Regions from separate parts of the Homo sapiens genome. Here region 1 is linked to region 2. The links come from fine-mapping of genetic effects on gene expression. A gene starts in region 2. The other region holds a variant in brackets. All regions are shown on one strand. Distances are from middle to middle.

Region 1 (8,334 bases), 27 kb before region 2:
TTCTGTCCCTCATATCCCAATGAAATGTGGAGGGAGGTACCTATGGGGACAGAGGTGGCCCAATCTCTGAGCTTTCCCATTTTGAGGGTCAATAGAACATAAAAATGCATCCCACCTGGACGAAGTGGCTCATGCCCATAATCCCAGCACTTTGGGAGGCCAACGCAGAAGGATCACTTAAGCCCAGGAGTTGAAGATCAGCCGGGGCAACATAACAAAACCCCCATTTCTACAAAACATTTTTTAAAAATTAGGCGAGGCGTGCACACCTTTAGTCCCAGGTACTCAGGAGACTGGGGCAGGAGGATCCATTGAGCCCAAGAATTCGAGACTGCAGTGAGCTATGATTGCACCACCACGGCACTCCAGCCTGGGCAACAGTGCAAGACCCTGTCTCAAAAAAAAATAAATAAATAAAAATAAAAATAAAAAATAAAAAAAAGCATCTCTGATTCCAGCAAGGACGAGGAAGGCTGAGATAGCTCTTTAGGAGTCTGTACTTACACAGCCGGTCTCAAAGCAGAATAGGGCAACCAATGATGCATGCAGACAGGTCCCTCTCTGAACTGTTCCCCCTAGACCAGGTGCGCTGGCTCGTACCTGTAATCCCAGCAATTTAGGAGGCCAAGACAGGCGGATCACTTGAGGACAAGAGTTCGAGACCAGCCTGGCCAACATGGCGAAATACTGTCTCTACTAAAAATAGAAAAATTAGCCAAGCGTGGTGGTGCACGCCTGTAATCCCAGCTACTCAGGAGGCTGACGCAGGAGAATTGCTTGAACCCGGGAGGCAGAGGTTGCAGTGAGCTGAGATCGCACCACTGCACTCCAGCCCGGGCGAGAGAGCAAGACTCCATCTTGGAAAAAAAAAAAAAAAGAACTGCTTCCCCTAAATTCCTAATTCTCTCATACAGCTCCTCAGGTCCTCCCTCCCAGGACAGCAGCCCACAGAATGGACATCCCTCTTCTCATCTTTCCCTGATCAAAATGTCCCCATCTTGTGTAGCACTCATTTTAGGCCCTGATCCTCTGTTCTCCATGGTGACAAGCAGATTTTTTTTCCTCAATGAGAATCTCCTCAGTTATGTGCTCGTATTTTAGCAAGGACCTTTGAGAAATATAAGGCCTTTATTCAGAGGACTGACTAATGGTGGAATCTGAGGCACAGAGGCAGGTTGATGCAGAGCTATTTAGGTGCAGGAGAGCCTCAGAGCTCCCATTAAATCATAGCCATGGCTGACCTGATGGAAGAGAATGTATTGTCCTTTCCATGAAAAGTTTTCACCTGCAAACCAGTATGCTGCTGTCAGGAGTAGGGTTATGCCCTTAGGGATGTGCTTACGCCTGGGCAACATAGTGAGACCCCATCCCTACAAAAAATCAAAAAATTAGCCAGGCATGGTGGCATGTACCTGTGGTCCCAGCTACTCGGGAGGCTGAGGCAGGAGGATTGCTTGAGCCCTGGAGGCTGCAGTGAGCTGTGACTATGCCACTGCCACCCCTGTCTGGGAGCAAGACCTTGTCTCAAAAAAAAAAAAAAGAATGTGTTTAGCAAATCACTGCATGCATGGATGGATGGATGGATGAAGCCCAAACAAGAATGGAACAAAAGACCTTGATCTCATCAGCCCTTGACCTCATCCAATCTTCCAAACTCTGGCAGTCCAGGCAGAAGACCAGAGGTCCCCAGCATTCCTTCTTTGAAATGTCAGCTTAGGGCCCACTCCAGGTGCAGATCTAAGAGAGAAGGAAGGCGTCTCCTCCAAGAACTAGTCCTCAGCACCCACTGCCTTGGACCAACAAGCAGCTTCTCCCCAGGGCTGTCCCAGAAACACTGGGGCAGGGGGCAGGGGGTGCTTCCCTGCACCCATTCCATCCCAGACCCCAAGTCCCACAGAAGTGCATGCTTCTGGAAAGAGCCTGAAATAGTTACACGATTCTGTCTCCGTTTCTTTTTCCCCCTCCTGCGCTTAAGTGCCTATTAGGGACAAAGGGACAGGAACAGAGGACAATAACATCTGTTTTTCCAACAAGCTGGTGACAATGCGGATCTGGAGGCGGAGCGTGCATCAGCACTGGGGCCCAGATGCAGCCCTGCAGCTGCAGAAGCAACTGGCACTCCATCATTTATCAGGGAGATCACCCCCCAGTCAGCAGCTCCTCACTCGCTGGCATGTATCCTCACCCAGGGAGCCATCGCTGCTCTCGCTGGATCAGGCTAACCTCTCACTCTTTTTTTTTTTTTTTAAATCTCTGGTGGCTTTCAGGAGGAACCTGGAAGCCACAAGTCCTCCAATCTTAGTCCTGCCGTCTCAAGATTAGGACCAAGGATGGGACACAGAGCATGGCGGGAAAAGCACTGGGTTAGAAGTCAAAGGACTTGGCTTCTCATCCCAGCTCTGCCATCAGCTCTGAGACCTTGGGCTGCTGGGTCTGTTTGGGGACATTGAGAGCAAGCTGTTTAACTTGCTGAAGGAGCCTCAGTTTCCTCATCTATAAAATGGGAGCTATCATACCTCAGTCATGGAATTGCTAAGAGTCTCAAGTGTGGCCGGGCGCAGTGGCTCAAGCCTGTAATCCCAGCACTTTGGGAGGCCGAGGCGGGCGGACACGAGGTCAGGAGATCGAGACCATCCTGGCTAACATGGTGAAACCCTGTCTCTATTTTAAAAATACAAAAAAATTAGCCGGGCATGGTGGCGGGCGCCTGTAGTCCCAGCTACTTGGGAGGCTGAGGCAGGAGAATGGTGTGAACCCGGAAGGCGGAGCTTGCAGTGAGCCAAGATCGCGCCACTCACTGCACTCCAGCCTGGGTGACAGAGTGAGACTCCGTCTCAAAAAATAAATAAAAAATTTAAAAAAAGAGTCTCAAGTGTGAGAACACACATACACGATCCTAAGTTGGCTCAGACACAGAGTGACTGGGAGCAAGGGGGTGAGCCACGGCCGTGTGTGTTTCTGCAGGTGACCTGGAGGCCACTCCTGCCTAAACCTGACTCCAATGCCCAGACATGGCTGAGATGATTTACATCAGTCAGACTGCACAAAGCAAATAGAATCAACCATCCATTCACCAGGCATGGTGACTCACGTCTGTAACCCCAGCATTTTGGGAGGCCGAGGCAGGTGGATCACTTGAGGTCAGGAGTTCGAGACCAGCCTGGTCAACATGGTAAAACCCCGTGTCTACTAAAAATACAAAAATTAGCTGGGTGTGGTGGTGCATGCCTGTAGTACCAGCTACTCGGGAGGCTGAGGTGGGAGGATCACCTGAGCCTGGGGAGGCCGAGGCCTCAGTGAGCGGTGATCTTGCCACTGCACTCCAGCCTGGGCCACAGAGTGAGACCCTGTCTCAAAAAAAAAGACAGAAATTTTGAATAAACAAAAATTTTTTTTTGGCCGGGCGCAGTGGCTCATGCCTGTAATCCCAGCACTTTGAGAGGCCAAGGCTGGTAGATCACTTGAGGTCAGGAGTTCGAGACCAGCCTTGCCAACATGGTGAAACCCTGTCTTACTAAAAATACAAAAATTAGCCAGGCATGGTGGTGGGCGCCTGTAATCCCAGCTACTCAGGAGGCTGTGGCACAAGAATCACTTGAACCCAGGAGGCAGAGGTTGCAGTGAGCCAAGATCACACCACTGCACTCCAGCCTGGGTGACAGAGGGAGACTGTGTCTCAAAAAAAAAAAAATTGTAAAAGTTATTAGATGTCTTCAATGGAAAACCAAGCATTGTTTGGAGCAGAGCCTTCCTGCTATTTGACTCCTGGCTGGGCAACATGGCAAGACTCTGTCTCTACAAAAATTAGGCCGGGCATGGTGGCTCATGCGTATAATCCCAGTACTTTGGAAGGCCAAGATGGGTGGATCACCTGAGGCCAGGAGTTTGAGACCAGCCTGGCCAACATGGTGAAACCCTGTCTCTACTAAAAATATAAAAATTAGCTGGGCATGGTGGCACGCACCTGTAGTCCCAGCTACTCGGGAGGCTGAGGCAGGAGAATCACTTAAACCTGGGAGGCAGAGGTTGCAGTGAGCTGAGATCGTGCCACTGCACTCCAGCTTGGGCAACAGAGAGACTCTGTCTCAAAAAAAAAAAAAAAAATCCATCAAACTGTGAAGACCCCTGAGACCCTGTCTCTGATGGAGCCCCTCAATCCTACCTCTTCCCCCTCTTCTCCAACATCCAAGGCCACCAGCATGACAAGCCGGCCACATGCCTGGGCAGCTCAGAGGAGCCATGGGAAGGGTTAAGGGAAGGAAAGGCAAGGAGGAGAGGCCGGAAAGAGGGTGGGAGATGAAGACAATAACAAAAGAGGCAGCTGTGAGTCTTTCAACATTTTAAAAGAGATTGAAATTGAAAACGAGAATTATAAAAGGCAACCGATCAC[G/A]CTTTGCTCCCCCCTTCAAAAGAAAGAAGTGTTGAAAATGAAAAAGACTGTTAACCAAATGAGTGCTGCTTTTAGAGTTGGAAGAGAACCAGTCCAGGCCATGTGTGGTGCTCCTGTGCGGTGGTTGTGATCCCGAGCAAGTCACTGAACCACTCAGCCCATGAAACAAGCCGAGCATGCACCTCTCAGGGCCATAGGGAGGCCAGCGTGAGAAAAGCACGGAGAAAGCTTCAGTGAACCCCAAGTTGCTGCCCGGATCCAGCGTCTGGTGGCTCTCACTGTGACTGTGGTTAGGCGGCCTTGACATGTTGCTGTCATGCCCGCCACTGAGAGAAACAAGGGAATGAGTATCAAGGATGACCCAGGGCAGGCAGTGGGGTTTCCAGGGCAGGGCCTCTCCTGGGGAAGCCCATCTTCTCCCACCTCTCATGCAGTGAGATTGGCTGCAGCCACTGTGATGGCCTAGGGCATGGATTACACCGTGCTCTGCCCTGCTTGACTGACTTGGTTATCTTCGCTCCTCACCATCCCCTCCCTGTTCCTTCTTGGAAATGGAATGGCTCTTCTCAGCACAGCCACCCAGCCCCTGCACCCAGCCTCTGTGCCAAGCTGGCAGGATAACGAATGGCTCCACCTCCTCCTCGCCTCCGTCAGGAGGGGCTCTGAGCAACCCTCTGCTCACAGCCCTCTGTGGTTTCCCCTTATCCTCCTTGGAGCTGCATGGAGACTGCTTGTCTAGACATTGAGATGGCTTTACCAGGTGTCGCTCACTGCATTGGGTTCCCTTCACGTTCAGCACCTACTGAATACCCAGGATAATAACTGCACCACTGCGGGGTGCAGGAGGTGTCCCCAAATGTCCATAAGTGTACACACATATGTGCACACATGCACATGGGAAACTTTTATTTATTTATTTATTTATTTATTTATTTATTTATTTTTGGAGACAGGGTCTCATTCTGTCACCCAGGCTGGAGTGCAATGGCACAATCTCAGCTCACTGCAACCTCCACCTCCCAGGTTTAAGTGATTCTCCTGCCTCAGCCTCCGGAGTAGCTGGGATTACAATATGTGCCACCATGCCCGGCTAATTTTTGTATTTTTAGTAGAGATGGGTTTTTGCCACATTGGCCAGGCTGGTCTCAAACACTTGACCTCAGGTGATTCACCTGCCTCGGTCTCCCAAAGTGCTGGGATTACAGGCATAAGCCACTGTGTCTGGCCCAATTTTTTAAAATATAATAACAACTCTGGTGGGGAGCAATGGCTCATGCCTGTAATCCCAACACTTTGGGAGGCCAGAGTGGGTGGATCACTTGAGGTCAGGAGTTTGAGACCAGCCTGACCAACATGGTGAAACCCTTCTCTACTAAAAATACAAAATTAGCTGGGCATGGTGGTGCATGCTGTAATCCCAGCTATTCGGGAGGCTGAGGCAGGATAATCGCTTGAACCCAGAAGATGGAGGTGGCAGTGAGCCGAGATCGTGCCACTGCACTTCAGCCTGGGCAACAAGAGCAAAACTTCGTCTCAAAAAAAAAACAAAAAAACAAAAAACAATAATAGTAAAAGTAATAGTAACAACTCTGGTAAAACAGACATCAGATGTTTTCCAGTTTTCTTCCCTTGTTGAATGAACCTGGACTGCAGCCCAAGGGGATGTTATCTTTCCCTTGTACCTAGAGATTCCTAAAGCCTCTCTGAAGGACAGGCCACTCACAGCCACATGTAAGACCACCTGTCTCTCCATCCAGGACTTCTTCAGCGCATTCTCAACTGTCAAGCCTCCAGGGCTGTGAAGCATTCGAATGAGAAGTCACCTTGACAATCTTTGACCCCAAGGCCAAGACCCCAACTTTTTCATAGTCACCCCACCAGGATTCTGATCTCAGCACAGCCAGGCTTGGCTCTCCTGACAGAAGGGCTGCAGATGGGTCATCCTTTGGTTTCTGCATGGAACTTATCCTGGTGCCAGGGCAGAGCCCCTCGGAATCACCAAATGGACACCCCCACCCCCATACACAGAGTGCCATTCAGGCTACTATAGCAAAATACCATTAAACTAGATGGCTTATACACAACAGAAATGTCTCACAGGTCTGGGGGCTGAGAAGTCCAAAACCAAGGCAGATTTGGTTTGGTGAAGGCCACTTTCTGGTTCATAGATAGTGCCTTCCAGCTGTGTCCTCCCATGGAGGAAGGAGCAAGGCAGCTCCCTGGGGTCTCTTTGATCAGGGCACTAATACTCTACCCATGAGGACTCTACTCTCGTGACCTAATCACCTCCCAAAGTTGCCACCTCCTAATACAATCATGTTGGGGATTAGGCTTCAACATAGGATTCAACATTAGGATTCAACATGAATCTGGGAGGATACAACATTCAAACCACAGCAGAGAGTTTCACAATGAATAGTTGTTTCTTTTCTATCTCCCTTACTATCATATAAGCTCTGGGAGCATAGAGATCTGGTCTTGTTCATTTTCTATGTTTAGTTTTAATACAGTTCCTGGTACTTATCAGGTGCTCAATACATGTTTGTTGAATGAATGAATGAATGTACCAGGCACTGTGCTGAGTACTGGGAAGAACATGGACCCTCAGCCATGGGCCCTCTGCCTTGGTAGGAAAGTCTAAGATTACACAAAAAACAACATTCTAAAATAGTCATCCATAAGAAAGGAAAGGGGGCTGGAAGCAGTGGCTCAGGCTTGTAATCCCAGCACTTTGGGAGGCTGAGGCGGGCGGATTGCTTTAGCCTAAGAGCTGGAGACCAGCCTGGGCAACATGGTGAAATCTTGTCTCTATAAAAAATACAAAAATTAGCTGGGCATGGTGGTGCAAGCCTGTAGTCCAAGCTACTCTGGAGGCTGAGGTGGGAAGATCACCTGAGCCCAGGGAGGTTGAGGCTGCAGTAAGCCATGATTGTGCTACTGCACTCCACCCTGGGCTACAGAGTGAGATCCTGTCTCAAAACAAAGGGGGGGACAGGGGGAACTCACTTTATGAAGTGCCTACTACTCACCAGGCACATGCTAAGTACTCTGTGAGCACTACCTCATTTAAACCCAAAATTACCCTACAGGGCAAATCCTATCATCCTCCTTTGCAGAGGAGGCACCGGAAGCTCAAAGAGGTTATGTAGCTTGTCTGAGGGTATCCCGGGGGTGAGTGATCGAGCCTGGACTTCTACCCACCCAGTGCTGCCAGACTCGAAAGCCCAAACTCTTTCCACTTCACCAGTCAAGCTCCAGGAGTGATATAAGGTGTGCCTGTTTGTCTGTCTGTCCTCTGGAGAGTGTAAGTTTCCTGAGGACAGGGATAAGGTCTCATTTACCATGATACCTCCCAGAGCTTAGCAAGTGCCTGTAACATAATACTTGTTCAATAAATTGACTGGTCTTGCAGCCACCTGCAGATGGCATCAGAGGAGATCTAGTCATAGATAGTGAATTGATCGCAGTCTGGAACAATGGGGCATGGAGAAGTTCATCTCTTCTGCCCTCATTTCCCCACAGCCTTTATGCCTCTATGTCTCACACATGGCTGTGAGTGGCCTGTCCTTCAGAGGGGCTTTAAGGATCTCTAGGGACAAGTGTCTATGTTGACACTTGAGGTGGCAGGATAATGTATGCATGTAGCTTTTGCTATTAGTTCACTGTGTGTCCTCAAAGGGCAGGGGTGTGCCTCGTTTATCTTGCCTCCTGGGACAGAGCAGGCTCTCAGTAAAGGTCTTTGGCCAAGGCAAGTGTCAGCTGGAAGGCCCTCATTGGTGACCATGGTGACCTCTGACCCCCTCAGCACTTCCCCTGAATCTGAGGGCCTCCCACCTGGTATTCCCTTGGCCTCAATGTGGCCCAGGGCTGAGGGGCTCCCCTGACTCGCAGGAGACTTGGGCTCAGCGCTCCTGCTTCACGGGATGCTTTCCCTGGCCTTGTCT
Region 2 (8,334 bases):
TCCTGATCTCAAGTGATCCACTTGCCTTGGCCTCCCGAAGTGCTGAGATTACAGGCATGAGGCACAGCACCCAGCCCAAAGTTAGTCTGAAAATGTAAATAAAATGTGGAATGTGTCCAAGAAAAAAAAAAACCTTTGAGTTATGCTTAATTCCTCTGTTTCTCTTTACCTCACATCCAATCCATCAGCAAACCCTGTCTACCTTCAAAGCATATTTAGAATCTGGCTACTTACCTCTTCCACTACCACCCGCTAGATACAAGCCACCAAACATCGCTTGCCTGGATTATTCAAGAGCTTCCTACTTGGTCTTCCTGCCTCTACCCTTGCCCCACTCCCCTTGATCCATTCTCAATACCTTACCCAGAGCAATTCTTTTAAAACATTATATTACATCACTCCCTTGCTCAAAGTCCTGCAGTGGCTCCTCCATTCCAGAGCCAAGACCAGTGGCCTACAAGGTCTATATAATCCGTGTGTGTGCCTCCTTACCCTCCCCAAACGTACTTCTCTTACTTTACCTCTCTTTACTCTCTCCTTCATTCACACACTGGACTTCTTGCTGCTCTGTAAGCTCTTTGGACACATTCCTGCCTGAAGGCCTATGGCACTTGCTGTTGCTTTTCCTGAAATGCTCCTCTCTCAGATATCTGCTTGGCCAACTCCCTCACCTCTTACCTCCTTCAATGTAACTCAACTCAAATACTACCTTTCTGAGGCATGGTCTCACTCTGTCGCCCAGGCTGGAGTGCAGTGGTGTGATCAGGACTCACTGCAGCCTTGACCCCTGGGCTCAAGCAATTCTCCCGCCTCAGCCTCCAAAGTAGCTGGGACCACAGGCAAGCACCACCATGCCCAGCTAATATTTTTTATTTTATATTTTATACAGACAGGGGTCTATGTTGCCCAGGCTGGTGTTTAACTCCTGGCCTCAAGCGATCCTCTCGCTTCAGCCTCCCAAAGGGCTGGGATTACAGACATGAGCCACTGCACTCAGCCAAATGTTACCTTTTTGATGAAGCCTACCCTGATCAAACTACTTAAAATAGTAATCTGTGTCCCATTCTTTGCTCTACTTTTTTTTCCCATAGCACTTATCATCTTTCATATACTATAATCAGGGTGATCAATTCAACCTGACTTACCAGGAACTTTTCTGGTTTTAGCTCCAGAAGTCGCACATCCGACTTAGTCCTGTCACCTTAGTCCTGAGCAAACCAGGATATTGGTCACCCTAACTATAATTTTCTATTTTTACTTTCTGTCTCTTTTCATGATAATACGTAAGTTTCACAAGGGCAGGGATCTGTGACTGCTGTGTTCACACAGAACAGTGCCTGGCACATAATAGGTGCTCAATAAATAGGGCTTACCCACCTGCCCATCACTACCTTAATCAGCCTCTTGCAAGAAGTCACCTAGCAAACTAGCTAGAAGTAATTATCTATATCATTTTGAACTCTTCAGATTTAATTCTAATATTTGAAACTGTGGCATTATAAAGTATGAGTGATTAAAAAAAAAAATGAGACAGAAAAAATGTCCATATAGGCCGGGCATGGTGGCTCACGCCTGTAATCCCAGCACTTTGGGAGGGCAAGACAGGCAGGTCATGAGGTCAGGAGTTCAAGACCAGCCTGGCCAACATGGTGAAACCTTGTCTCTACTAAAAATACAAAAATTAGCCAGGCGTGGTGGCACATGCCTGTAGTCCCAGCTACTCGGGGAGCTGAGGCAGAAGAATCGCTTGAAGCCGGGAGACAGAGGTTGCAGTAAGCCGAGATGGTGCCACTGCACCCTTGCCTGGGCAACAGAGCGAGACTCTGTCTCAAAAAAAATAAAAAAAATTAAAAAATGTCCTGACAGGGCGCGGTGGCTCACGCCTGTAATCTTAGAACTTTGGGAGGCTGAGGCGGGTGGATCACGAGGTCAGGAAATCGAGACCATCCTGGCCAACATGGTGACACCCCGTCTCTAATAAAAATACAAAAATCAGCCAGGCGTGGTGGCGTGCACCTGTAGTCCCAGCTACTCGGGAGGCTGAGGCAGGAGAATCGCTTGAACACGGGAGGCAGAGGCTGCAGTGGGCCGAGATCGCACCACTGCACTCCAGCCTGGGCGACAGAGCGAGACTCCGTCTCAAAAATGAATACATAAAAAATAAATAAAAATAAATGTCCATATAAAATTTTCAGTCATGCCCTACGTCCGTAAGTCAAACCAGGATCTTCTCAAATCACTGTTTCAAAAAATTCACATCACCCACAATTATAGACTTCAATTAAAGCGGCTTAAATTAGAAAGCCACCTTTGACATCCCTATAACTCCTTTACAAAGCAGCGGTTTCCAGTGGACGCGACTAAGACCTGCAGCACACAGGACAGGCCAAATCTTACCTCCTGTGTAGAGAAAGGAGCCAGACAGGCCTCCAAAGTAGATAAGAGCCAAGTGCTCCAGTTTCAGAGGGGACAGGTAGTAGAGGCAAGCGGCACAGACGCAGCCCAACGTGTAGAGGAAGACTCCGAACCGGACGACATCCTGCGGCTCCAAGATTCGGTCCACAAGTGTCCTGTCATCACTCTTTTTGTGGTCAATGCCCTTGGAAAAGTCATAGTAAGTGTTGACCAAATTACCGGCCCCGTGCACAGCCAGGACAGCCACGGCACAACCCACCAAGAGCCTGGGATCCAGGACACCGTGGGATCTGTAGGCAAGGGCACTGCCCAGGGCCACCGGTGTGAGTGAGGCACTGAAGCTCCAGGGCCTCAGGGCCAACACGTAGGAGGCACACTTCTGCCTCCAGGAGCGCTGGGGGAGCCTATCTTGCTCGGGACAGTCGTTCCCCAGCGGGTCCCTGTCCCCAGCTTTGACAGTCTCTCCCGACAGGATGTTAATCTTCTCCCCCAGGACCTGAGAGGCCGCCATGGAAGCTCCACGTGGTTGAAGTAAACTCTAAAAGTGAGCCACGCACAGTGACCGCCCGGGAAGGAGGAAGGACGGGGCGGGGCAGCAGGGCCCGACCTTCCTTCGGTTCCGCCCCAGGACAGGGCTGGTGTGGCGGCAAGGTCCGGGGGCAACAGCAAGTGGGTCTTACACCCCACGAGGCCAAGCGGCGCCGCCCCTACTACCCGTCACCTGGGCGAAGTCTGTCTCCGGCCCCCAGCCCCGCGTTAGAGCCCACGGCTGAGCCGCGGCCGCCTTCTTTAGGCCGCCAGAGCCGCCATCTTGTGCGCCGGCCTCTGGAGGCCCGCCCGGAAACAGGTGCCGGCGGCGCGGGCTGGACCGGAGGGTGGGCTGGAGGGCGGGAGGGGGCGGGGCCGAGCCAGAGGCGGGGAGAAGGGCGGTGAGGGGTGGGGGGCGGGGGCCTGGTCAGAGGCGGGGCGGGCAGGGCCGAGTCAGAGGAGGGGCGGGGTCAGAGGCGGGGAGAAGGGCGGTGAGGGGTGGGGCGGGGCTGAGGGGCGGGGCCAGACCGGTGGTGGGGCGGGAGGGGGCGGGGCCGGGGCGGGAATGGACCGGGAGCGGGGACGGGCCAGGAGCTGGGGCCGGGCGGTGACCCGGCATCCAGCCCTTTTCCTGCCTGCACTGCGCCCCGCAGCTACTTCCAGACTAACTGCAATCAGCCTCTCTTAGCATCATAAGAACTCGAAGGCGTGTTGCTTTAGGACTTACCGGGCGCACTTTCATTCACGAAGTAGGATTCATTAATTTATTCATGCTACAAGCATTTATTGAGCGCCTGCTGTGTGCATACATTCTGACGTCTATCATATCTGCACCGTGGAAATACTCTATGATGTGCTACTGCTCACCTCTTATCAGCTTTTCATTCAGTGACATCCTTCAGCAGCTTGAAATCTGCCCATGGTGGGAGAATTTACACCACGCAAATCAGCAAATGCTTAATAACTGCTAAGTCGTCTAGACTTAAGAAAGTGGCGGAGAAAATGTTCATATTACTGGTTAAACTTAAAAGTGTTGGAGGGTGCGGTGGCTCACGCCTGTAATCCCAGCACTTTGGAAGGCCGAGGCAGGCGGATCACTTGATGTCAGGAGTTCGACATCAGCCTGGCCAACATAGCGAAACCCTGTCTCTACTAAAAATACAAAAATTAGCCGTGCGTGGTGGCAGGCACCTGTAATCCCAGCTACTCGGGAGGCTGGGGCAGGAGAATTGCTTGAACCCGGGAGATGGAGGTTGCAGTGAGCCAAGATCATGCCAATGGGCTCCAGCCTGGGCAACAGAGTGAGACTCCATCTCAAAAAAAAAAAAAAAATTAGCCGGGGGTGGTGGTGCATTCCTGTAATCACAGCTACTCGGGAGGCTGAGGCAGGAGAATTGCTTGAACCCTGGAGGCAGAGGCTGCAGTGAGCCAAGATCACGCCACTGCACTCCAGCCTGGGCAGTAGAGCGAGACTCCGTCTCAAAAAAGAAAAAAAAGAGAGAAAAAAAGTGTGTAAGTGAATGCACCAAAACTTTGAGGAAATATTCGTTCAGCATTGGCAAATTATTATCCAGTTGAACAAATAAGTCGCTTGTAGCCTTGACAAACTAGTGAAGTTCTGACATATCTCTTTTGATTGTTTCACTTTCCTCTTACTCCTAACATAAAATATCAACCAACATTCATGTCTGAACTATGCTCATTGATCAATTGGGACCATAGGGAAGCTACACAACATCAAAGAAAGCATACTGTGAGAACTGGCTATATGGAGTTTACAATAGAGTCCTGTACTGTATATTTTAGTATTTGTAAACTGTATGCTACACATCATTTACATCAGTGAAATTATAATACACATGCAACATAGATGCACACAGGACTGACTACATAATTTGTGGTACCCAGTGCAAACTAAAGAGGTGGAGCTGGGGGTGATAATGTGTGCCTGTAGTCCCAGCTACTCAGGAGGTTTTTTTGAGACGGAGTCTTGCTCTGTTGCCCAGGCTGGGGTGCAGTGACACAATCTCGGCTCACTGCAAGCTCCGCCTCCAGGGTTCACACCATTCTCCTGCCTCAGCCTCCCGAGTAGCTGTGACTACAGGCGCCCGCCACCACGCCCGGCTAATTATTTTGTATTTTTAGTAGAGACAAGGTTTTACCGTGTCAGCCAGGATGGTCTCTATCTCCTGACCTCGTGATCCGCCTGCCTCAGCCTCCCAAAGTACTGGGATTACAGGTGTGAGCCACCGCACCCGGCGGGAGGATCTCTTGAGCTCAGGTTAGAGACCAGCCTGGGCAACAAAGTGAGATCTCCGCTCTAAAAAATTAAAAAGACCAGATGTGGTGGCTCACACCTGTAATCCCAACACTTTGGGAGGACAAGGCAGGTGGATCGCTTGAGCCCAGGAGAAGACCAGCCTGGACCACACGGTAAAAATCGAAGAATTAGCCAGGTGTGGGCCAGGTGCAGTGGCCCACGCCTGTAATCCCAGCACTTTGGAAGGCCGAGGCGGGCAGATCATGGGGTCAGGAGATAAGACCATTCTGGCTAACATGGTGAAACACCATGTCTACTAAAAATACAAAAAAATTAGCCAGGCGTGGTGGCAGGCACCTGTAGTCCCAGCTACTTGGGAGGCTGAGGCAAGAGAATGGCATGAACCCCGGAGGCGGAGCTTGCAGTGAGCCGAGATCGTGCCACTGCACTCCAGCCTGGGCGACAGAGCAAGACTCCATCTCAAAAAAAAAAAAAAAGAAAAAGAAAAAGTAAAAGAATTAGCCAGGCGTGGCAGTGTGCACCCGTGGTCCCAGCTACTTGGGAGGCTGAGGCGGAAGAATCACCTGAGCCTGGGAAGTTGAGGCTGCAGTGAGTCATGATTGTGCCCCTGCACTCCAGCCTGGGTAATAGAGTGAGATCCTATCTCAAAAAAATAAAATAAAATCAATAAATAAGTGGGGCCAGGCCAGGCACGGTGGCTCACGCCTGTAATTCCAGCACTTTGGGAGGCCAAGGTGGTCAGATGACCTGAGGTTGGGAGTTCAAGACCAGCCTGACCAACATGGAGAAACCCCGTCTCTACTAAAAATACAAAATCATCCGGGAGTGGTGGCGCATGCCTGTAATCCCAGCTACTCAGGAGGCTGAGGCAGGAGAATCACTTGAACCCGGGAGGTGGAGGTTGCGGTGAGCCGAGATCGTGCCATTGCACTCCAGCCTGGACAATAAGAGCAAAACTCCATCTCAAAAAAAATAATTAATTAATTTAAAAAATAAAAAAAATAAGTGGGGCCTCTTGTTCAAAATCATTAACAATTGCAAAACAGAGCATGACACAGCTGTGAAGCTAGCTCTGTACATGTCTGCTTCCACTTACCCCCAATCTGGTTGTTGAACATTACAACTTCACCACTCAACACAGAGCTTTCTATGCTGGCCAAACCCATGAGTCATACAATGTCAAATCAGACAATATATCAGCAGATAGATTAAAATCCTGGCTCTATCACTTACCAATTCCATGTCCCAATATCTCTGTTCTTTGGCTTACTTATATATAAGGTGGGAACAATACAACCTGCCTCATAGAAATGCTCAGGAATAATAGTAAACAGCATTTATTGACTTTTCACATGAGCCATATACTTTGTTTGCTTTTGAGACGGAGTCTTGCTCTGTCGCCCAGGCTGGAGTGCAGTGGTGCGATCTCGGCTCACTGTAACCTCCACCTCCCAGGTTCAAGTGATTCTCCTCCTCAGCCTCCTGAGTAACTGGGATTACAGGCGTCTGCCACCATGCTCAGCTAATTTTTATATTTTTAGTAGAGATAGGGTTTTACCAAGCTGATCTCGAACTCCTGACCTCAGGTGATCCACCTGCCTTGGCCTCCCAAAGTGCTGGGATTACAGGTGTGAGCCACCATGCTGGGCCAAGTACCTCTTTTAGGTACTTTACGTGTGGTATTAGCGTTTAACCCCCACAATACTGCCTACCAACGAAGAGACTATAATCCTTCCAGTTTTACACATAAGGAAATAGGTACAAAGTGTTGCAGCCAAATTTCAGATTCAGTTAGTTTGACTTGACTCCAAGCTGCTTTTAACAAGTACTCTATAATGTCCACCAAAATCCCTGATACACTGTAAGTGCTCAATAAATATTAGCTATTATTTTAGTGTAATGCATAAGAAAGTTCTTTGTAGTGGGAGTTGAACAATGAGAACACATGGACACGGGGAGGGGAACATCACACACCGGGGCCTGTTGGGGGTTGGGGGGCTGGGGGAGGGATAGCGTTAGGAGAAATACCTAATGTAAATGACAAGTTGATGGGTGCAGCAAACCAACACGGCACATGTATACCTATGTAACAAATCTGCACGTTGTGCACATGTACCCTAGAACTTGAAGTATAATAATAAAATAAAAAGACTTGCAAAAATACAATAAAAAAGAAAGTTCTTTGTAAACAGAAAAGAAACCGACAAACGCACTTATTACTGTTGCTATAAAATCATCTTTGATTATTAATTAGAAAACAGGGCTGTATCATATCTCAGGGTGGCAAAAATCTCCTATATGGCTGATGGGAATAAAAATTGGTACCTCCCTTATAGAGATCAACTTGACAAGATTCAACAAAACTGTCTAACCCTGTAATCCCATTTCTGGGAATTTATCTTGATATAGCTGTCAGGGAAGAAAATGATATACGTACAAAGGCATTCACTGCAGCATTTGTAATAGCACAAATTTGGACATAACACAAATGTCCATTCACAGAGGACTGGAAAATGAACTATGGCACAGCCATGTGATAGAACACTATGCAGCTGTAGCAACAACAAAAGGACAAGAAACTCTGTGTGTACCAAGATGGAAATGAAACCGTCCCAACAAACTTTATAAAATTAATCAGGGGCCAGGTGCGGTGGCTCACACCTGTAATCCCAGCACTTTGGGAGGCCAAGGCAGGCTGATCACTTGAGGTCAGGAGTTCGAGACCAGCCTGGCCAACATTGTGAAACCCCGTCTCTACTAAAAATACAAAAATTAGGCTGGACACAGTGGCTCACACCTGTAATCCTAGCACTTTGCGAGGCTGAGGCAGGCAGATTACCTGAGGTCAGGAGTTCAAGACCAGCCTGGCCAACATGGTGAAACTTTGTCTTTACTAAAAATACAAAAAATTAGCCGGGTACAGTGGGGTGCGCCTATAATCCCAGCTACTCTGCCGAGGTGCACACCTGTAATCCCAGCTACTCTGGAGGCTGAGGCAGGAGAATTGCTTGAACCTGGGAGGCAGAGGTTGCAGTGAGCTGAGATCACGCCACTGCACTCTAGCCTGGGCTACAGAGCGAGACTTGGTCTCAAAAAAAAAAAAAAAGTAC

Evidence for each region.
Region 1: its variant is fine-mapped to the expression of UBIAD1 in whole blood (TOPMed, PIP above 0.99).

Annotation. Positions count from the first base shown.
Region 1 is chr1:11,295,569-11,303,902 of GRCh38, reverse strand. It overlaps a transcript of UBIAD1 not described here. Among named protein-coding and RNA genes, the nearest start is that of UBIAD1, 27 kb to the right of the region's middle. The variant G/A (reference allele first, on the strand shown) is at 4,391.
Region 2 is chr1:11,268,124-11,276,457 of GRCh38, reverse strand. It overlaps UBIAD1 (UbiA prenyltransferase domain containing 1), which reads right to left and starts at 3,260. Exons shown (of 2, transcript NM_013319.3): 1 at 2,398-3,260. The coding sequence starts at 2,926. RefSeq lists enhancers at 2,992-3,041, 3,132-3,301 and silencers at 3,302-3,351, 3,412-3,681.